Homo sapiens: one gene and its partners. The protein of the gene in region 2 purifies or fractionates together with the protein of the main gene of each other region. This does not show direct contact. Each region holds a gene or a part of one and is shown on either strand. Other genes may lie near its edges.

Evidence for each region.
Region 1: the proteins of CCDC51 (region 2) and JUP purify together in Homo sapiens (affinity purification with mass spectrometry; 3 studies listed by BioGRID and IntAct, with this or other methods). This does not show direct contact.
Region 3: the proteins of CCDC51 (region 2) and CDSN purify together in Homo sapiens (affinity purification with mass spectrometry; 3 studies listed by BioGRID and IntAct, with this or other methods). This does not show direct contact.

What each region holds. Positions count from the first base shown.
Region 1 is NC_000017.11:41,762,712-41,769,740, forward strand, and holds part of JUP (junction plakoglobin), read right to left. Parts: intron 6,967-7,029; coding exon 6,707-6,966; intron 6,497-6,706; coding exon 6,258-6,496; intron 4,870-6,257; coding exon 4,668-4,869; intron 2,357-4,667; coding exon 2,212-2,356; intron 2,106-2,211; coding exon 2,002-2,105; intron 611-2,001; coding exon 272-610; intron 1-271. UniProt on the Homo sapiens protein: Common junctional plaque protein. The membrane-associated plaques are architectural elements in an important strategic position to influence the arrangement and function of both the cytoskeleton and the cells within the tissue.
Region 2 is NC_000003.12:48,431,648-48,437,123, reverse strand, and holds the end of CCDC51 (mitochondrial potassium channel), read left to right. Parts: intron 1-1,987; 5' UTR 1,988-1,995; coding exon 1,996-2,307; intron 2,308-3,147; exon of another isoform or gene 3,148-3,252; coding exon 3,253-3,417; intron 3,418-3,957; coding exon 3,958-4,716; 3' UTR 4,717-4,951; downstream 4,952-5,476.
Region 3 is NC_000006.12:31,117,447-31,124,944, reverse strand, and holds the start of CDSN (corneodesmosin precursor), read left to right. Parts: upstream 1-4,498; 5' UTR 4,499-4,525; coding exon 4,526-4,610; intron 4,611-7,415; coding exon 7,416-7,498. UniProt on the Homo sapiens protein: Important for the epidermal barrier integrity.

The DNA.
Region 1 (7,029 bases), on a different chromosome or scaffold from region 2:
AATTTAATGAAACCACCCAGGGTACTCATGTGCATTTTGAACTCTGAGCTCTGCCCTAGGGGCTGGTAGAGCTACAAGATAGAAATCCCAATTCTGGAATTTTAGAGCAGAGCCATTGTTGAGGTCTAAACTATTACACGAGAGAGAAATAAACTTCTGTCTTATTCGAGCCACTGTATTTAGGGCTTCTTTGCTACAGCGGCTTTGCCTATACCAATACAGCACCTAAGCCTGCTGCAGGGAGCTCCTTCCCCTCGCCTAACAGCAGTACCTTGACCAGTGGCCACTGGTTGGGCTGGTTGAGCAGCTTCACGATGGCTGGGATGCCATAGTTGAGACGCACAGAGTTCTGGGCCATCTCGGCCTCAGGGTGGCGGCTAGTGAGGTGGCGCAGAGCGCAGACGGCAGGCTCCGTGATGTCGTCCTTGTCACCAGCACGCAGGATGGCATGGATGAGAGCCTCCACACCGCTGTTCTGTGTCACCAGCGTCTTGTTCTTGCTGTTGTTGCATGTCAGGTTGGAGAGTGTGCCCGTGGCACAGGTGAGGACGTTGACGTCATCCACACTCAGCTGATTCACCAGAATCTTCAGCACACTCTCCAGGCCCTCCTGGAGGGCAAGGAAGGGACGGGGGAGTCAGGGAGCAGCCAACTCCAGGGAGCCTTCTCGAATATGTCCAAGGGGAGTGGGATGACCTAAAGGGGTCAGCCCTGCCTGTGTGTGCCCGGGAACTTTCATCCCTATGACCCGCCACACCCTGTGAGAGGGCGTTACTATCCTGTGGTGCAAGTGAGGCAATGAGGCTCAGAGAGGTTGGGGAACTTGCCCACAGACACACAGCTAGTGGCTGGATCTGAACCCAGGCTTGGCTCTAAGCCCCACATCTCTTCCCTCCAACTCATCAGCCTTTCCCTGGGGCCCTCAGACCCAGGCAGAACCCTCCTCAGGCCAAAGTACGGTGGCCAAGGGAGGCCTCGAGACCAGGAGGCAATTGTTGAGGGGGCCGCATGATTCAGTGGCCCAGCTGAGCCATGTCTACTCGCTTGTCACCTTTCTGGGCCTTCACTGCTGCCCCACCACCCTGGGGCCCTGAGCCAAATCCATTTCCAGTAAAATCACTACCTCAGACGTCTATCTCACTTCTCCCAGGGAGACACGTGGGCCTTGTGGTGGAACAGAAAAACCCCAGCTTTGGGGACGGACAGTCCTGGGTTCAAATCCCAGTTCTGCCATTTACTACCTGTGACCATGGCCATTAGCTCCCCGAGCCTCAGTGTCTTCATCTAACCCACAGGGTCCCACACTCTAACCCCAGGTTGAATGAGCTACTGTCCACAAATGCCACGCAGAGGGCCAGCACAGGGTGAGCACTTGATAAACAGCATATTGCTAGGGGAGGCCTGGGGAATGGTTGTTGGAAGGAGGCACAGGGCACTTGCCCTGGAGCTGCATTTTTCCTTAAATTGTATTTTTAGTCATGGGGGCCTGTCTCTTGGTACACTATTGCTCCAGCCCAGGGCCCAGGTCAAAACTGTTCTTTTGCTGGATGTGGTGGCTCACGCCTGTAATCCCAGCACTTTGGGAGGCCAAGGCGGGTGGATCACCTGAGGTCAGGAGTTCAAGACCAGCCTGCCCAACATGGTGAAACCCTGTCTCTAATAAAAATACAAAAATTAGCCAGACATGATGGCAGGTGCCTGTAGTCCCAACTACTCGGGAGGCTGAGGCAGGAGAATCACTTGAGCCCAGGAGGCGGAGCTTGCAGTGAGCCGAGATTGCACCACTGCACTCCAGCCTAGGTGACAGAGTGAGACTCCGTCAGAAAAAAAAAAAAAAAAAAAAAAAGAGATGAGGGTTTTCAAGGCATTTCCAGCCTCAGTCACAAGGAAGAGAGATTTAGAGCCCCCAGTCCTCCCACAGTACCTCAGGTCAGATGCCCAGACAGGAGGCTGGATGGGGCAGCTGAAGAGGTCAACCCCAGGCCCAGATACCTCCCTCACCTGCTTGGTGGCCACATCTGAGAGGTTGCGCAGGGTCCACAGGCAGTTCTGCACCAGGCGGGGGCTGTTGCTGGTCAGGTGCTTGCCCAGGGCCTGCATCCCACCTGGGGCAGGGATAGGGGTGCCATCAGCCACGGGGAGCATGGCTGACTGAGCCTGGCAGCTGGGCAGAGCTCCCACCCCAGCCGCCCTCAAGGCCATCATACTCACCAGCCTCCACAATGGCAGGCTTATTGCTGGGACACACGGATAGCACCTTGAGCACACGACTGGTGGTCCAGAGCAGCTTTTCATAACTGTAGTTACGCATGATCTGCACGAGGGCCTGGGGCCCACCATTGGCCAGGATGATCAGCTATGGGTAAAGAGGGAATGAGTGTGAGATGGACGGGGAATATGACAGGAACAAGGAAGCGCGGGACAGGAGACAGAACTGTCATTACTGAGCTTCAGCTAAAGCACGAATAGTTCGTTTTTTTCTTTTAATGTATTTTTTTCTTTTTATAAAGATGGGGGTCTCACTATGCTGCCCAGGCTGGTCTAGAACTCCTGGCCTCAAGTGATCCTCACACCTCAGCCTCCCAAAGTGCTGGGATTACAGATGTGAGCCACCACACCCAGCCAAGCACCCCAATAAGTTTTTTTGTTTTTTTTTTTGAGATAGAGTCTCGCTCTGTCACCCAGGCTGGAGTGCAGTGGCACGATCTCAGGTCACTACAACCTCCGCCTCCCGGGTTCAAGCAATTCTCATGCCTCAGCCTCCCAAGTAGCTGGGATTACAGGCGTGTGCCATCACGCCCGGCTAATTTCTGTAGTTTTTGGTAGAGACAGGGTTTCACTATGTTGGCCAGGCTGGTTTCAAACTCCTGACCTCAGGCAATTCACCCGCCTCTGCCTCCCAAAGTGCTGGGATTACAGGCGTGAACCACCACACCCAGCCCACCCCAATAGTTTCATGACTGTTATGTAAGCCAAAATTTTGAAAAAAGGATAATACCCAGTGCTGACAAGGACATGACAAAACTATATGCACACCCATTACCAGTTATGGCACTGGAAATTAGTCCAGTCCTTCTGGAAATCAATCTGGCCATTTGGGGAAAAGCCTAGAAGTGTTAAAAATTGATGAGAATTTTTTCCGCTCTTTGACAAAGGCTAGACATTCATTACAGCATTGTTTATAAAGGTGGAATAGGAGCAATCTAAATACCCTCCCTCAGAATAAAGCCTGAGGTCTCCACTTAATGAAATGCTATCTGTAGGCTGGGTATGGTGGCCCATGACTTTAATCCCAGCATTTCGGAGGCTGAAGCAGGAGGATTCCTTGAGGGTAGCCTGGGCAACAGAGCAAGACACCATCCCCACAAAAAATTTAAAACTTAGCCCGGGTGCTAATTAGCTCAGTAGTATGTTCTCATAGTCCTAGCTATCAGGAAGACTAAGATGGGAGGAATGCTTGAGCTCAGGAGTTTGAGGATGCAGTGAGCTAGGATCATGCCACTGCACTCTAGCCTGGGTAACACAGTGAGACCCTGTCTCAAAAAAGAAAGAAAAGGAAAGAATGGGAAGGAAGGAAGAAAGAGAGGAAGAGAGGGAAAGGAAAAGGAAAAGGAAAAGGAAAAAGGAAAGGGGAGGGGGAAAGGGGAAAGGAAAGGCAATCTGTCATTATTAGAGGGTGGTTTTGAGGACAATATAGCAAAAAAAAATTTTTTTTAAACATCATACAGGCCAGGCACAGTGGCTCACACCTGTAATCCTGATACTTTGGGAGGCCAAGGCAGGCAGATCACTTGAGCCCAGGAGTTTGAGACCAGCCTGGGCAACATGGAGAAATCCCATCTCTATAAAAAATTAGTTGGGGGTGGGGCACGGTGTCTCATGCCTGTAATCCCAGCATTTTATGAGGCCGAGGCAGATGGACAACCTAAGGTCAAGAGTTCGAGACCAGCCTGGCCAATGTGGTGAAACCTTGTCTCTACTAAAAATACAAAAATTAGCTGGGTGTGGTGGCGGGCACCTGTAATCCTAGCTACTTGGGAGGCTGAAGCAGGAGAATCGCTTGAACCCGGGAGGCGAAGGTTGCAGTGAGCCGAGATCGTGCCATTGCACTCCTGCCTGGGCGACAAAGTGAGACTCCATCTCAAACAAAAAAAAAAAAAGAAAGAAAAGAAAAGGAAAAAAAAAATTAGTCGGGCGTGGTAGCACACGCCTGAAGTCCCAGCTACTCTGGAGGCTGAGGTAGGAGGATCATCTGAGCCCAGGAAGTCAAGGCTGCAGTGAGCCCTGATTACACCACTGCACTCTAGCCTGTGTGACAGAGTGAGACCCTGTCTCAAAAAAAAAAAAAAAAAATCAGGCAGAAAACAGATGCAATATTGCAGATTGTTATGATGACAAGGATGTGTACACATCTGTAATCTGCCCACAGAACAGCTCTTAAGGAAGCACATCGAAATGACAATAGTGGCTATATGAGGATGAGTGATTTTTTTTTTCCCTTATCCTCAAAATAATAATTCTGGGCAATTCAGTCGCATGATGAAGCATGTATATCTGCACCTATATCTCATCTAAAAGGAGTAAGGGGGCAGCGGCCCAAGGCTGTGCAGGATAGAAGATGGCGCAAGGGTGGGCTTCAGGCCTCGGGAGAGTTGGGGAGGGCCCACCTTGCTCTCCTGGTTGCCGTAGGCCAGGAGCTGCAGGCAGTCGGTGGTGATGGCCAGGAACTTGGGGTTGTTCTTGTTGAGCAGGGGCACCATCTTTTGCAGCCCGTCGGCCAGGCGCACGGCCATCTTGGCGCCCTCCTGGTACAGGAGCAGGTTGTGCAGCGTGGTGATGGCATAGAACAGGACCGACTCCACAGGGGAGCTGGGGGGGTGGGCAGGGGTTAGTACGCTGAGGTCCCAGAGGCCTGGCATACATGTGAGCCTGGCATGGGTTCCCACCTCCCCCAGGAAGCCTCCCCGCTACTGACGCCCCTCTGGAAATATCCCTTTGCTAAAATCTCATCACTCCTTGAGCCTGCCCTGCTCTTAAGCATGAAGCAAACAGCACCTCTCTTCTCCCAACTGGGACAATGACTCCTCCTGCTTCTGAGTCCCCAGCCCTGTGCTGAGCGCACAGTAGGTCCCCTAGACACTGATCCCTACTAAGTAACCACCATGTGGAAGGCCACATATTAGAGAGGCCTTGCAAGGCGTTCAGAGGGGAGTGAAATCAGTGTCTCCCCTTCAGGGAGCTTCCAGCCTGGTATGGGAATGAGAAATAAGGCCAGGAGCAGTGGCTCACGTCTGTAAACTCAGCGCTTGGGGAGGCTGAGGCAGGTGGATCACCCTGAGGTTAGGAGTTCGAAACCAGCCTGGCCAACGTGGTGAAACCCCGTCTCTACTAAAAATACAAAATTGAGCTGGGCATGGTGGCAGACGCCTATAATCCCAGCACTTTGGGAGGCCAAGGGGGGCAGATCACCTGAGGTCAGGAGTTCAAGACTAGCCTGGCCAACATGGTGAAACCCCATTTTTACTAAAAATACAAAAATTAGCCAGGCATGGTCGTGGGTGCCTGTAATCCCTGCTACTTGGGAGGCTGAGGCAGGAGAATCTCTTGAACCCGGGAGGCAGAGGTTGCAGTAAGCCGAGACTGTGCCATTGCACTCCAGCCTGGGCAACAGGAGGAAAACTCCATCTCAAAACAAAAAAAAATAGCTAGGTATGGTGGCAGATGCTTGTAATCCCAGCTACTCAGGAGACTGAGGCAGGAGAATCATTCGAACCCAGGAGGTGGAGGCTGCAGTGAGCTGAGATCACGCCACTGCACTCCAGCTTGGGTGACAGAGCAAGGCCTCATCTCAAAAAAAAAAAAAGAAATGAGGCCAATCCACATTTTGTAGGGGGCCAGGAAACAGAAAGTTTGCAAGGGACTTTGCATTTGCTGTTCCCTCTGCCTGGGACACTCTTCCCTTCCTCTGCACTAGCCAAACTCCACTCATCTGTCAATCCCCTGCCATTAAGCGATTCCACCTTTGAGCAATCTCAATGCTCTTCTGCCATAGCCTGTGTCGTATCCTGATCATTAACCTGCTGTTTACATGCCTGTGTTCCCTGCTGGGCTGTGAGCCACCGAGCACCCGGATGGGGTGTGCTTCTGCCTGGCACATAGTAGGTGCTCACTGGATATTTATGGAAGCTCAGGGAAGGGAGGGGAGAGGCCCAAGTGAGAGGGGGTCCTGGGCTCATGCAGTGAGCAGGGTTGGGTACCTGAGCATGCGGACCAGAGCAGGGATGCCACCCGACTTGAAGATGGCGAGCAGCCCCTCCCGGTGGTGGGAGAGGTTGTGCAGGATGCTGGTGGTGCAGCGGGCTGTGTCCAGGTCGCTGGTATTCTGCATGGTACGCACGACAGCGGCCACCAGCTGGGGCGAGCCCATCAGGGCCCGCCGCGACGCCTCCTTCTTCGACAGCTGGTTCACAATCATGGCCGCCTTGGTCACCACCACCTGGAGGGCAAAGGCAGGGGCGGGGACGTGAGCACTAAGGAGAGGCCGGGATACCCTTCCACAGAGCTGAGGAGGGCCCCAGTCAGACTCATCACACACGGGAGAGTCTGGGTCATAACCTCCCTCCACCCCTACAATGTCCCTCCCCTGAGGACATCTGCTCTCTCCCCTCCCTGCCCAGCCCCCACCCTAGCAGGGACCCTCACAGACCGGGTCCTCGTCGTTGAGCAGTTTGGTGAGCTCGGGCAGGGCGCGAGTGGCCAGCTCGGCATCGTCCTGGTAGTTGATGAGATGCACAATGGCCGACTTGAGCAGCTGGGACGGCTCGGCCAGTCGCTGCAGGTTGGTGGCCTGCCCCTCCACCTGGGTGGCCAGCAGAAGCGAGCTGTCCTCGCCTGACACACCAGGGCACATGGCCTCCCGCACCCGTTTGGCCCTGGCTGTTGTGGACATCTGGTACTCCAGATCACCTGGGGGCCATGGGGACAGGGACTGAGTGCAGGCAGTGGGCTGGGCAGACACTGGGGAGCAGG
Region 2 (5,476 bases):
GGGGTGAGCCGAGTAGACTCGTGGAGGAAGAGTCATCCAGCTGGACAAGGTGGCAGGGCACAGACCAGCACGGTGGCTGGAGCAGAGTATGGCAGTAGAAGGAAGAGGATGAGGGCTGAGAGGTCTCAGGATTTCTTGGCCACCGCCAGGTGAAATGGGAGCTGTTGGGGGATTTTGATCAGAGGGATGTAATCTGATTTTTGTGTTACAGGGCCTTGGGCTGCCATGTGCAGAACATGGGGGTGGGGGACGGCAGGGGAGAAAGCCGAGATTGCATAGGAGACAGTAGCTGTCATCTCTGCCAGGAATGGGTGACTTTGCTGGGGTCTAAAAATGGGCAGCTAGTAGAGGAGGTGCTGGGAAAGGAGGCTGAGAAGGTTGGAGGAAGCCAAGAGGGGCAGTGATGTTGGGAAGAGAGGGTGTTGAAAGTGGTGCCAGCCATGGCGGACACTGCATGCTTTGTCTGATGAAGGATACACCTGCAGGGGTGTTATAGGATCTCAGCCTGTGTGTCATGGGTGCTGGCCTTGAGGCCTGGGAGTCTGACTGGGCTGCTGGGGCCTGGATGGTATGCACCCTCATGGGCATGGAACCCAGCCTTATGAAGGGGGCCCAGGGGTTTGGGTGTGGCACCAGCTTGGGATCACTGTCACAGTGAAGTTCCCTTCTGCGGCTCTCAGCTCAGGCCCACTTTGCCCAGAAGACATGTTTCTACCCAACCAGCTGTGTTTTCAAAGCCGCTGAGCTTCTCCAAAGACAGTTCTTAGCACAGCATGATGGAGAGGAGGCTAGGGTGCTGTGGGGAGCCTCTGTCTCATATCACCTTCCATCAGGAAGCCCCTTTCTATTCTGTATCTGGAGCTCCTTCAGTTCCTTCCTGTCTGCAGCTCCCTCTGCTTTTCTCTCTGTGGCGTGGTCTGTTGGCCACCAGGTGTCGCTCTCACAGCCAGGATCAGTGCTTAGGGACTTTGAGGTGTGGTTTGGCCAGAGGAGGGTGCTGTTGGCTCAGCTTTTTCTGGGAAAATGGGTCACCTGGCCACCTCTTTGGGGTCCTCAGAGTCACTGGCACTCTTGGGCTCAGGTGAGGCCTGATTCTGGATAACAGGAGACTCCCTGCTGTCCAGGTAATGAGAAGCAGGCCCAAACATCAAAGCAAGATGGAAAAGGGAAAGATGAGAGAAACCTAACCTGTTGAGCAATGGCAGGTTGGAGAGGAAAGAGAAAGCTTATGGAAGTCGTGAAGTGTGAGACTGAGAGTTGGTAGCCTGGAAAGTCTGGGGGCGGAGTTGTATGGCGTGAACCTAAGAAAAGTCCTCTGTGGCAAAAACAGTTTTGTTTTGTTTTTTTTTGCCCCTGGAATTATCTTAGAGGAGAGCTGAGAGTTTTCTGTCTTGGGTCACAAATGGCCTGTGTCCTTAGGTCCTTGCACAGAATTGAAACTCTGCTTCCCTTGTGCTGAGGCAGTCCTTGGAGAGTCTGGGGAGTTGGTTTTGAGGCTGTTTTACAGAAATGATCCTGGATCTTAGTCTTCCTGAATTCCCCTGAGTTCCACAACATTGCAGGGAGTATTTATGCGTCTTTGTGGGGCTTTGTCAGCATGTGTACAAGTCTGGTTTAAAAACTGTCTTTGACATCAGAAACCTGGGCACCAGGATTCTCATTCAAGTCACAGCAGAGAGACCTGGAGGATGTAGGGAAGTGGGTAGCAGGGAAGGGTCCGCTTTGTGTGGCATGGTGGCGGGCACTGGAAGGTATGGCATCCTAGAGGCTCGTCCCCAACTGTGTTCCATTGTCCAAGAGCACCCAGAGGAGAGCCTGACCATCCTCTTGCCACAGGGGCCACAGTCTCTGGGCCCAACAGGGTGGTGCTCAGTTTAGATGATTTGAGTGGGGATTAGTCTGTTCAGAACTGTCCCTAGGCCTCAAAACTGACTTATGTCCAGCCTTTCTCAGCTGTGAGCTGACCTGTCTGGCGTCCCCCTCACAGATCTCAGGATGATGGGGCGCAGCCCTGGGTTTGCCATGCAGCACATCGTGGGTGTGCCCCACGTACTGGTTCGGAGGGGCCTCCTTGGAAGGGACCTCTTCATGACCAGGACTCTCTGCAGCCCAGGCCCAAGCCAGCCCGGAGAGAAAAGACCTGAGGAGGTGGCCCTGGGGCTGCACCACCGCCTCCCAGCACTGGGAAGAGCCCTGGGGCACAGCATTCAGCAACGAGCGACCTCCACAGCCAAGACTTGGTGGGACAGATATGAAGAGTTTGTTGGACTCAACGAGGTTCGAGAGGCCCAGGGAAAGGTGACAGAGGTGAGGAGGGGAGCTGGGGTGGCTGGCCCCGCCCTCTGACTTGGGAAATGTGCCAAACCAGTCACGTGGTGCTGGGTAGCCACATCCAGACTTGTGTTTAGCCTCATTTCTCACGTGGAAACCTGGGCTTGATGCTTCTGGGGTGAAGGTCTCCATGTAACTGTGCCACCTACTTTCCCCGAAAACAGTTACTGTGTACCAGTAAGTCCCTGGCCACTAACATCCACTCTGTGAGGCCAGCAAATACTTCCTTTGTGGACCATTTGGGGATTGATGGTGAGAGTTACGTGGGGCTTGCTGCGGTACTGTTACTGTGTGTAATTACAACATCTTTTGTGAAGATAGAGGGCACTAGGAAATGTCACAGTGTGAGGTGGAAAGAGCTGGTGGTGGTTGTCAAGTCCTTTGTGGTGGCAGAAATGCATTCTGTCATCTCTGTTCCCACTCCTGCTTAGGCATGTAGTAGTGTAGCGTGGTGGGAAGAACCTGGGGTTCAGCTGGGACTTTGAGACAAACAGTGCCATCTCTTTCCTTGGAGATTGTGAGCTTGGCTGAGCTGGTGTTTCTGGGTTTATAAACTGGAGGCCACAGCAGTGCCTTTCATGGCATTGTTATAAGGCATAAATAAGGCAACACACGGGAAACAGCCTACCAACACAGGTTTGATGGACACAAATTGTGTGCATTGTTAGCTGTTTTCAAGTTTTTTCAGGGGCATGTTATTTCTGCTTGAATGGCTAAATCTCGTGATTCTGATGGGTGTGGCCCAAGGCTGCACTTTGAGCACCACTGGGTGAGCCAGGATTAGTGTCTAAGGAATTCCGTTTCCACCCTTTGCAGCTCACACCCCAGTGACCTCTTCTGGGAATGCCTTGCTGGGAATGCAGCTGAGCCTGTGTGGGTGTGGAGAGAAGGTGCAGATGGCCTCCGGTTTTCTCTTTGCAGGCTGAGAAAGTGTTCATGGTGGCTCGAGGGCTTGTCCGAGAGGCTCGGGAGGACTTGGAAGTTCACCAGGCCAAGCTGAAGGAGGTGAGGGACCGCTTGGACCGTGTCTCCAGGGAGGACAGTCAGTACTTGGAACTGGCTACTCTCGAGCACAGGATGCTGCAGGTAGGCACCTCAGGAGGCAGCCCTTTCGCACCTGGACAGTGACCCTAGCCTGGCAGATCATGGAGGGGCCGGGTGGGAACCCTGACTGGTCTGTAGTCAGAGGCCTGGTACAGAGGTGAGCCAGAAGCTCCTATGGATGGACAGAACCCCAAGCTTCCAGAGTCTATCCATATACTTTCTTCTGGAGTACTGGGGCCAACTCTTCAGGGCAGCGTAGCCTGGGACTCAGAATGCTGAGGAAGGAGAACTATGGAGGGGCTGGCCTAGGGAGTGCTGGACACTTCCCTTTGTGTAGACATAAGTGCACCTCTGGTCAAACCCAGAACTGCTCAGGTGGGACGATCATGCAACTCACTTTGATCACTCCCAATTCCTTTGCCCTTCTGACCCAGCCAGGTTGGTGCTACCTTCATTCATTCAGCATGGGTCTATGGAACATGTACTCTGCCAGGCACAAGGTAGTGAGCCATCTGCTGGTGGCTATAGCTGCAGGGCCACCTTGTGCCCATGTAATCCAATAACATGGCTTTGCTTCTGCAGGAGGAGAAGAGGCTTCGCACAGCCTATCTGCGTGCAGAAGACTCTGAGCGAGAGAAGTTCTCCCTCTTCTCTGCAGCTGTGCGGGAAAGTCATGAGAAGGAGCGCACAAGGGCTGAGAGGACCAAGAACTGGTCCCTCATTGGCTCAGTCCTGGGGGCCCTGATTGGTGTGGCTGGCTCCACCTATGTGAACCGTGTGCGACTACAGGAGCTGAAGGCTTTACTCCTGGAGGCGCAGAAGGGGCCTGTGAGTCTCCAAGAGGCCATTCGAGAACAGGCGTCTAGCTACTCCCGCCAGCAGAGGGACCTCCACAATCTCATGGTGGACCTGAGGGGCCTGGTACATGCTGCTGGGCCAGGGCAGGACTCTGGGTCACAGGCAGGTAGTCCCCCGACCAGAGACAGAGATGTAGATGTCCTTTCAGCTGCCTTGAAAGAGCAGCTTAGTCATTCCAGGCAAGTCCATTCATGTCTAGAAGGCTTACGAGAGCAGCTTGATGGCCTAGAAAAGACTTGTAGCCAAATGGCTGGGGTGGTTCAGCTTGTAAAGTCTGCAGCACACCCAGGCCTGGTGGAACCAGCAGACGGGGCTATGCCCAGCTTCTTGCTGGAGCAGGGGAGCATGATCTTGGCACTGTCAGACACGGAGCAGAGACTAGAAGCCCAAGTCAACAGGAACACCATCTATAGCACCCTGGTCACCTGTGTGACATTTGTGGCCACACTGCCTGTGCTCTACATGCTATTCAAAGCCAGCTAACCCCTGGCCCCTCCTCCAGAGGGTCTGAGGCAATAGCTGTGAATGTGGATTTAAGTAGAGAATCGTAGCAATGAAGCGAGCCTTTGGGGGCATGTACAACCTCAATCTGAAGGAGCAGTATCTGTGTGGCTCACCAGCAGGCATGCTTCGCTTTGTAGACAAGGTTCATTTACATTAATTATCAAAACTTTGTGCTAATGTCCAATTAAAATATCCTGAGTTTTATTATTTAAAACAATCAGACTGAGTTTTTTTCATTAAGAATCAAGATCCAAGACTTGAAGGTTGGGCCTGGAGTTGGGGTAGTCACCCCCTTTAGTTCCTCTCTCATCTCCTCTCTGTCCTCTTTTCTGAACTGTTATGGATGCACTCCTGAGGCCTAGATTTTCATTTTGGATTTCCTCCAGTTACCTGACTGTCCGGTGTCAGATGGCCTGGGAGTTCCAGTGAGTGGAACCTAGCCTGCTGCCTACTCATTTCGTGACCATGGTTGCTTCCCATCTCCTGGATCACTTTCTCTACCATGTGGGGGAGAACTTCCTGGTTCTAGTACTGGAGGAGTGATCAGAGGAGAGCAGGGAAGGGAGATTGGGAGAATGGTTGATAAATGTTGCTGGGGACATAAGTATAGGGATTGGTGGCCAGTCTGGATCCCTGGTACAGAGATTGCTTTGGGCAGCAGTGGTGTGCCACGGGGGCTGGGTGCACACCCCCACACAGCCCGGGGATATCTTCCACAGGCATAGGCAGAGCTCAGGAC
Region 3 (7,498 bases), on a different chromosome or scaffold from region 2:
CCAGGCTGGAGTGCAGTGGCATGAAATCGGCTCACTGCAGCCTCCGCCTCGCCGGTTCAAATGATTCTCCTGCCTCAGCCTCCTGAGTAGCTGGGATTACAGGTGCCTGCCCCCGCACCCGGCTAATTTTTGTATTTTTAGTAGAGATGGTTTTGCCATGTTGGCCAGGCTGGTTTCAAATTCCTGAGCTCAAGTGATCCACCTGCCTTGGCCTCCCAGAGTGCTGGGATTACAGGCGTGAGCCACCATACCTGGCCAGCTTTGACAGCAGAAATCTTCTCTCTAGAAATATTCATATACATAAGGAATTTTGCACACATCCTTACAGGGTTTAGGGAGCCTCTTAAGCCTGTCCATGAACCTCTGCCATTCATTTATAGCATGGTGTCAGCTGCAGAGTAATAGGATCTATGTGGGCCTGGAAGTCCAACAGGCCTGGGTTTGAATCTTTTTCAAACATTTTTGCTTGTTAGCAGCTGGTTTGGACAAATAATTTCAACTTAGTTTTCTCATCTGTGAAACAGGGGGAAAAAGCACTTACCCTGTAGGGCTGTTGTGAAGATTGAACAAGACAACTCATGTTAAATACCCAGGCACCGTGTCCGCCTGCAGCAGGCAGTCAGTACATGGTGGATCTCGTGCCCCAAGCCTCCTCTTTATGGAGTCCCTCAACTTGCCCCAGCTGGCCTCGGATTCCTCCCACCTCCACCTCCTGGGTAGCTGGGACTATAGCACGCCATGCTTCAGCCCCCTTTGTGATCATTCAAAGCCGTTTGGTTCCCTGCACCCTCTCACATTTACTGCAATTCCTATAGAATCCAAATTCTTTTAACCTGGTGTTGTAGGTCATCTACAATCCTGATCCAAGCAGCCTGTCCCTTCTCCCACACCACTGTCCTCCACATGCATGTCCCACACCAACCCACGCCATCCGCTGGTTCTAAATACACCTGAAGCACCACAAGGCCCCACGTCTGGCTGCCTGCTCTGTGCTTCTCTCATCATTCCTCAAGGCCCGGGGAAAGTCCTGCCACCTCCCTGAAGCCAAGTGCCTACCCGCTTCTCCACTCTAGGCTGCTGTCTTACGCTGTGTGTCCCCAGCTGGATGGCAGCTCCTCAGGGCAAGGAACAATTTCTCTTCTTTCTCAGTGCAACTTCCAAAACACAGCAGAGGAGCGTGCACTGGGGGCCAAGGCTGGCACAGCAAACACAGCAGCACAGGGCTGCTGGAGGGGTGGAGGGGACCAGAGGGGACAGTGACCTGCCTGCTTCATGATACATGGCTGGGAGCCCCACCTTTTGCCTATGGAAGGCATGTGCTTTGAGCTTGATTTTCTCGGGTGTAGAGTGTCTACGCCACCCACACTTTCTCACCCGGTCCAATGCACGGGCACGGGCAGGGGCAGGGCCAGAATCTGTTGCTGTAGAACACAGCAGAGCTGCCTGCACTACTGTGGACGTCACCAAACTGGCAGCTTCACTGAAGGTGACCCTGGCCTGTGTGGGCACTCAGCTGATGCCCTTTTCTTCCCTCCTAAGCCCCATTAGCTTTAGGTCTCCACCACCTGCACTGAGAGAAAGATTAATGGTGAGCACCAGAGTAAAATCTAGCACAGAAGGCAGGGTTTCAGTAAAAAACCAAAAGCACGGCGGATTAGAGCTCAAGGGCCCACAGGTGGGCAGGACAGTAGAGGAACTGGGCAGCCCAGGGTGGCAGGATGGGGTGGACAGGAGTGGACAGGAGAGAGTAGCCAGGAGGAGGGACGTGGCTGCACCGCCAGTCCACGTGGGCGGCTGGAGACCTGGCAGGAGGCCAGGAGAGACTGTGCCTCCTCCAGCCTGGCTGTCTTGGCCAAGTTCTGACGGCAGCCAGGAGGAATGTGACAAAGAAAACAAGACAAACTTTGCTACCTCTGGCTGGTCAGGGGAAGTTTGTGTTGGAAAAGAAGAAGCCACAGATTCCACTGTTCCGCTGCCTTCTCCCCTCACACCCTGGGACGGCCCAGCACCTTCTAGTCCACTCCTCCCTGCCCTCTGCCACTCCCCTCATTACCCCAGTGCCCCCTCCCTCCTTGCCCAGGTCCTCCAGGGAGCCAAGCCTGAGAGTCTAGGGAGGCCCACAGGAGGAAATGATGTTCGGAAAGAGCAGCATCACTTTATTTTTTGAGACGGAGTTTCCCTTTTGTCACCCAGGCTGGAGTGCAATGGTGCAATCTTGGCTCACTGCAACCTCTGCCTCCAGGGTTCAAGTGATTCTCCTGCCTCAGCCTCCCGAGTAGCAGGGATTACAGGCGCCCACCACCACGCCTGGCTAATTTTTTTTGTATTTTTGGTAGAGACGGGGTTTCGCCATGTTGGCCAGGCTGATCTCGAACTCCTGGCCTCAAGTGATCCGCCCGCATCGGCCTCCCATAGTGCTGGGATTACAAGCGTGAGCCACCGTGCCCAGCCGAGCAGCATCACTTTAAATGGTATCTCTGTCTCACATTTGTGCCTGCACCTCTATACAAGGCAGGAAGGGAGCAGAAGACACTCTGCTAGCATTGGCTGGGCTGGAGACTCAGGAAAGGGAGCCTGGGGCTGTGGGGGTGAAGCTGGCCTATTTGTCTCCCCCAGTGGAAGGATGAAGACAGGAGCACCTGCAGGGCTCCATTTGCTGGGCTTCCTACTGGGGGACTGCACCCCTTGTCCCATTTAACCTTTTTGATAATTTCCCATTTGATGTTCACAAAAACCTTGTGAAATAAGTGTTATTTAAAATACCCCCATTTCACAGATGAGGAGATGGAAGTTCAGAAAGGTTTGAAGAGCCGCCCAAAGCCAAGAGGTTAGCTGGGACTTGAACCCACGTCATCTTCATTCTGAAGCCAGTGTTTTTTGTTTGTTTGTTTTTCCCAAGGCATTAGCCCCCTTCAGGGGACCCTGTCCTATCCCTTCCTCTCTCCACAGCTCCCTCAGCCCCTCTTTCCTCCCACTCCCATTCTGAGTGTCACTAGCAAGTCAAGAGCAAGACTAGATGGCAGCCACTAGCTGCACGTGGCCAACCACATCATTACAATTAATTAAAATTAAAGCTCCAAATCTTTGGTGGTTAAACTTGCTCCATGTGGCCAGTGGCTACCGTATCGGACAGCACAGACAGGAAACATTTCCATCCTCCTGCTGGTCTGAACTTAAAGGGCGGTCAGGAGGTAGAGGGAATGGGAGAGACCAGGCCAAGGGGCCCAGGGACAGAGCTGCCTTTGTGAGGAGATGAGGTTTGGGAAGTGAGTTTGGGTGAGGGGAGCAGGGGTGTCTGAGGCCTGGGGGAGGAGAGGGCAGCTTGCTGGACTCCCAGGCACCTCCCTCCGATACTGATACTCCCGCAATACTAGTGAGCAATTAATTGGCTGGGGCGGGGCAGGGGCCAGAGCAGGAGGGAGGCCAACGCAATGGAGGAGAAGCCACCACCCTCTCAGCAGATGGCAGGGCTCCGGTTCTCCTGGCCTCCTTTCATCCTTTGAGGACCCGGGAGCCTGCCTGGCCCTCCTCGACCTGCCCAGAGCTGGCTGCTGCTTCCTGCTCGCTCATCCAGCCCAGGGCCAGCAGATGGGCTATGGGGCCACCACCTTCCCAATTAGCCTTCTTAGCCTCTTGCTCACCCTTGAGGTCTGGGTTACCAGCCATGGGGAGGGGCTGTGAGTGCCCTGTGAGTAACCAAGGCCCAGCTTTGACAGAGGTCATCAGCCCAGGCCCCTCCCCTGGCTGAGCCCTGGCTCCCAGCACCCCCCCACCCCCGCCACCATGCCGTCCCCAGAGGCCCCCAGAAGCGACAGGTCAGGGAGTTGGTTTTGGGAATGTGGTGCCCCATTTCTGAGAAGGAGAAAGTTCCCCAGGTGATGGAACACGTAATAGGTATGTGGCTGGCCTGGTACTTGGGGAGTGGTGGGAGGGGGAGCCTGGGGGATGGGGGCAGAACTCATATTTGAAGGAGGAAAGTGGAGGTGGAGTGATGGGGTCCTAAGGAAGGAGCAGATCAGGGGCTGTGAATGGGACCTCATTGGGGTTGGGTGGGTGGGGCTGGAGCGGGCACCCAAGTGTGGAAGAAAAAGCTGAAACACCCACGACTGCGAGTGGAGGGCAGATGGAGAGACAGGCCAAGCTACGGTAGGCAGGAGAGTTAAGGAGCCAGGCAGCTGGGTCCCGTGGCAAGAGTGGCCGCCCCAGAGTGGGTGGCCGTGGGGCAGAGCGCCTGGTTCCGGGTTAGGCAATGAGGAGCCGGGGCCAGGCCTGTCAGGTGGCAGGATCGTTAGAGCCCCGTGGCCATGGGTACCCCACACTGCAGCCACTGCTGCTGCTGAGTAGGCAGATGCACCGGGCTGATTACCACGCTCCTCCCGGCCACACCAACTTCCCCTGGGGCACCCACCCCCTCCACCTCTCCTCCTCTCCCCACAGTGACTCCTGCCCAGGGAATGTCCAGCTCTGGCATAAAGGACCCGGGTGTCCTTGAGCTGCCATCAGTCAGGAGGCCGTGCAGTCCGAGATGGGCTCGTCTCGGGCACCCTGGATGGGGCGTGTGGGTGGGCACGGGATGATGGCACTGCTGCTGGCTGGTCTCCTCCTGCCAGGTAGGAGGCTGGGGGCCCTGGGAACAGGAGGGAGGCGGGAGGGAGACTCCGGGAGAGGACCCAGCGAAGGGGACAGGCAGGGGCTCTGGAATCTGCCTTTTGAGTCTGGGGGTTGCTCCTCACTGTATGGTCGCCTCAGGTAAGTTTCTTAAACTTCCTGAGCCCCAGTTTCTGAAACTCTGAAGTGGGGTTAATGACACCTAACTCTAGTCTGTGTGTCTCAAATTAAATAATGTATGTGATATGTACTTTGGAAATTCTAGAGGTTTATATAAATGGTGGTGGTGATTTTTATTATGGGAGCACTACAAGATAATGATTGGACATTTAATAGTAATAATATCATTTTTAGAGCCTTTTTATATGCTAGACTCTGTTTTAAGCACATTTGGATTATATATTAGAACTTTTATTTTTATTTTTTTTTGTGAGATGGAGTCCCACTCTGTCTCCAAGGCTGGAGTGCAGTGGCGTAATCTCGGCTCACTGCAACTTCCACCTCTCAGGTTCAAGCGACTCTCATGCCTCAGCCTCTAGAGTAGCTGGGACTACAGGTGCCCATCACCACACCTGGCTAATTTTCTTTTTTTTGTATTTTTAGTAGAAACAGGGTTTCACCATTTTGGTCAAGCTGGTCTTGAACTCCTGACTCAAGTGATCCGCTCGCCTCAGCCTCCCAAGGTGCTGGGATTACAGGCATGAGCCACCACACCCGGCCTATATTAGCACTTTTGATCATTACAAGAACGGTATGAAAGGAGATTTGCTATTTCCACTCTACAGATGAGGACACTGAGGCTCAGAGAAGTTAGGAAAGTAGCTCAAGATCATGCATTAGAAGGCAGCAAAGCCAAGATTTCAACCCCAGGCCGGGCAACCCCTGGACCTGTGTTGTTGACCACCGGGTACTTATAGCCCTTGAGGAATTTCTGCGACCTTCCCATGGTCTAGTGGGTGGTTGGTGTCTGAGGGAATAGCGAAAGAGAGAGGCAATGCATGGTGGATTCGTGCAGAGGACTGAAGGGAATTGGCACAGCTGGGGTTCGGCGTGGAGGTGCATGCAGAGAATTTCTTTCTGAGGAGAGAACAGGGACATCACAGAGGATGGCAGTCTGGTTGTTGGTGGAGGGATCAGGATGAGTGGCAGTAATAATTCATAATATATAATGCTTTACACTTTCTAAAACATCTGGCCGCACATGATAGCTTGTGCCTGTAATCCCAACATTTCAGGAGGCCAAGGCAGGTGAATCGCCTGAGGTTAGGAGTTCAAGACCAGCCTGGCCAAGATGGTGAAACCCCCTCTCTACTAAAAATACAAAAAATTAGCTGGGTGTGGTGGCGGGCACCTGTGGTCCCAGCTACTTGGGAGGCTGAGGCAGGAGAATCGCTTGCACCAAGGAGGCAGAGGTTACAGTGAGCTGAGACCGTGTTATTGCACTTTAGCCTGGGCAACAAGAAACTCCATCTCACAAAAAAAAAAAAAAAAAAGAAGAAGAAGAAAAAACTTCCAGGTGGATGATCTCATTTAGTTTTCTTCATAGTAATGCTGTGGGAAGGCAGGGAAAATTTGGCCCCTCTGAATGTATAAACTAAAGCTCAGAGAGGTTCAGTAACTTGCTAGTATGTGGCTCTGTTTGTAACACGTGGGACCTGGAGGGGCTAGGGAAGGCAGAAGGAACGCAGGTGAAAGAGTCATGGAGGAACCACGGGGTAAGTTGGGCCTGGGGTTTTGAGCAAAGGAAAGGAAAGATAAGGAAAGATGTGGCTCCACATCCCTGAGGGAAGTCAAGGCAGCAGAAGTCAGATGAGGGGCTGGACAGAGGCAGGTGTGCTCAGAGAGGGAAGCTGATTGTGGCCAGGAGCCTCGGAGGTTCGTGGGGTTTCGTCCTGGTTCCCTGGGCTGGGCCAGCGAGAGCAGGGCTGGCTCAGGGTGCGGTGTCCTGACACACTGGTACCAGCAGGTTCTGAAGCAACAGGTAGTGACCCCACATCCTGGCCCCCACCCAGCTTTACTGGCATGGCCAGTGCTGAGATAGGAAATAGGGTTTCCATTCCTGACCCCAGCCTGGGCTCTCACGAAGAAGCTGGTGACCAAATCTTAGTCCTCGAGTGCCCTTTCCTTTATTTCAGCCCCTCTGCCCCCAGCTTTGTCTTTTTCCAGTGTCTCCTTCTATATGTGTCTCCACTTCTCAGCCCTCCATTGTTTTGCCTTTTGTCTTCTTCCCTTTGGTCCCACTGTCTGGCCCAGGATTTTTCCCCTAAGAATTTACGCCTGGACTCCTCAGAGCCTCAGTTTCCCCAATTCTCTGTCTCTTCAGGGTCCTTTCTTTTAGACCTACTTGTTCCTGCCCCTTCTCCATTCCCTCTTCTTTTTAAAAAAAATTTTAATTAAAAAACAAAATACAGACGGGGTCTATGTTGCCCAGGCTGGTCTTGAACTCTGGGGCGCATGCAATCCTCCCACCTCGGCCTCCCAAAGTGCTGGGATTACCGGCGTGAGCCACTGTGCCCAGCCCCCTCTTATATTCAATGTATTCCTTTGAGGCCACTCACTTTGGCACCTAATTTTCTATTTTTCTGGTTGGTGTTTGCCCACCCTTCCCAAACAAAGAAATGCCTTTATTCGGCCACCTCAATATCCTTTAGAGACAATAGCCAGTTCTTCCTCCTTTCTCCATCCCTAAACTCTCCCTGCGCTCTGCTTGGGAGAAACCCGAGAGGCCGATGACTGAGATAAGGCAGAAAGGTGAGGGAGGAAGCCAAGCCTCCTTGGCCCTTACTAACCACTGCTTTCCTCCACAGGGACCTTGGCTAAGAGCATTGGCACCTTCTCAGACCCTTGTAAGGACCCCACGCGTATCACCTCCCCTAACGACCCCTGCCTC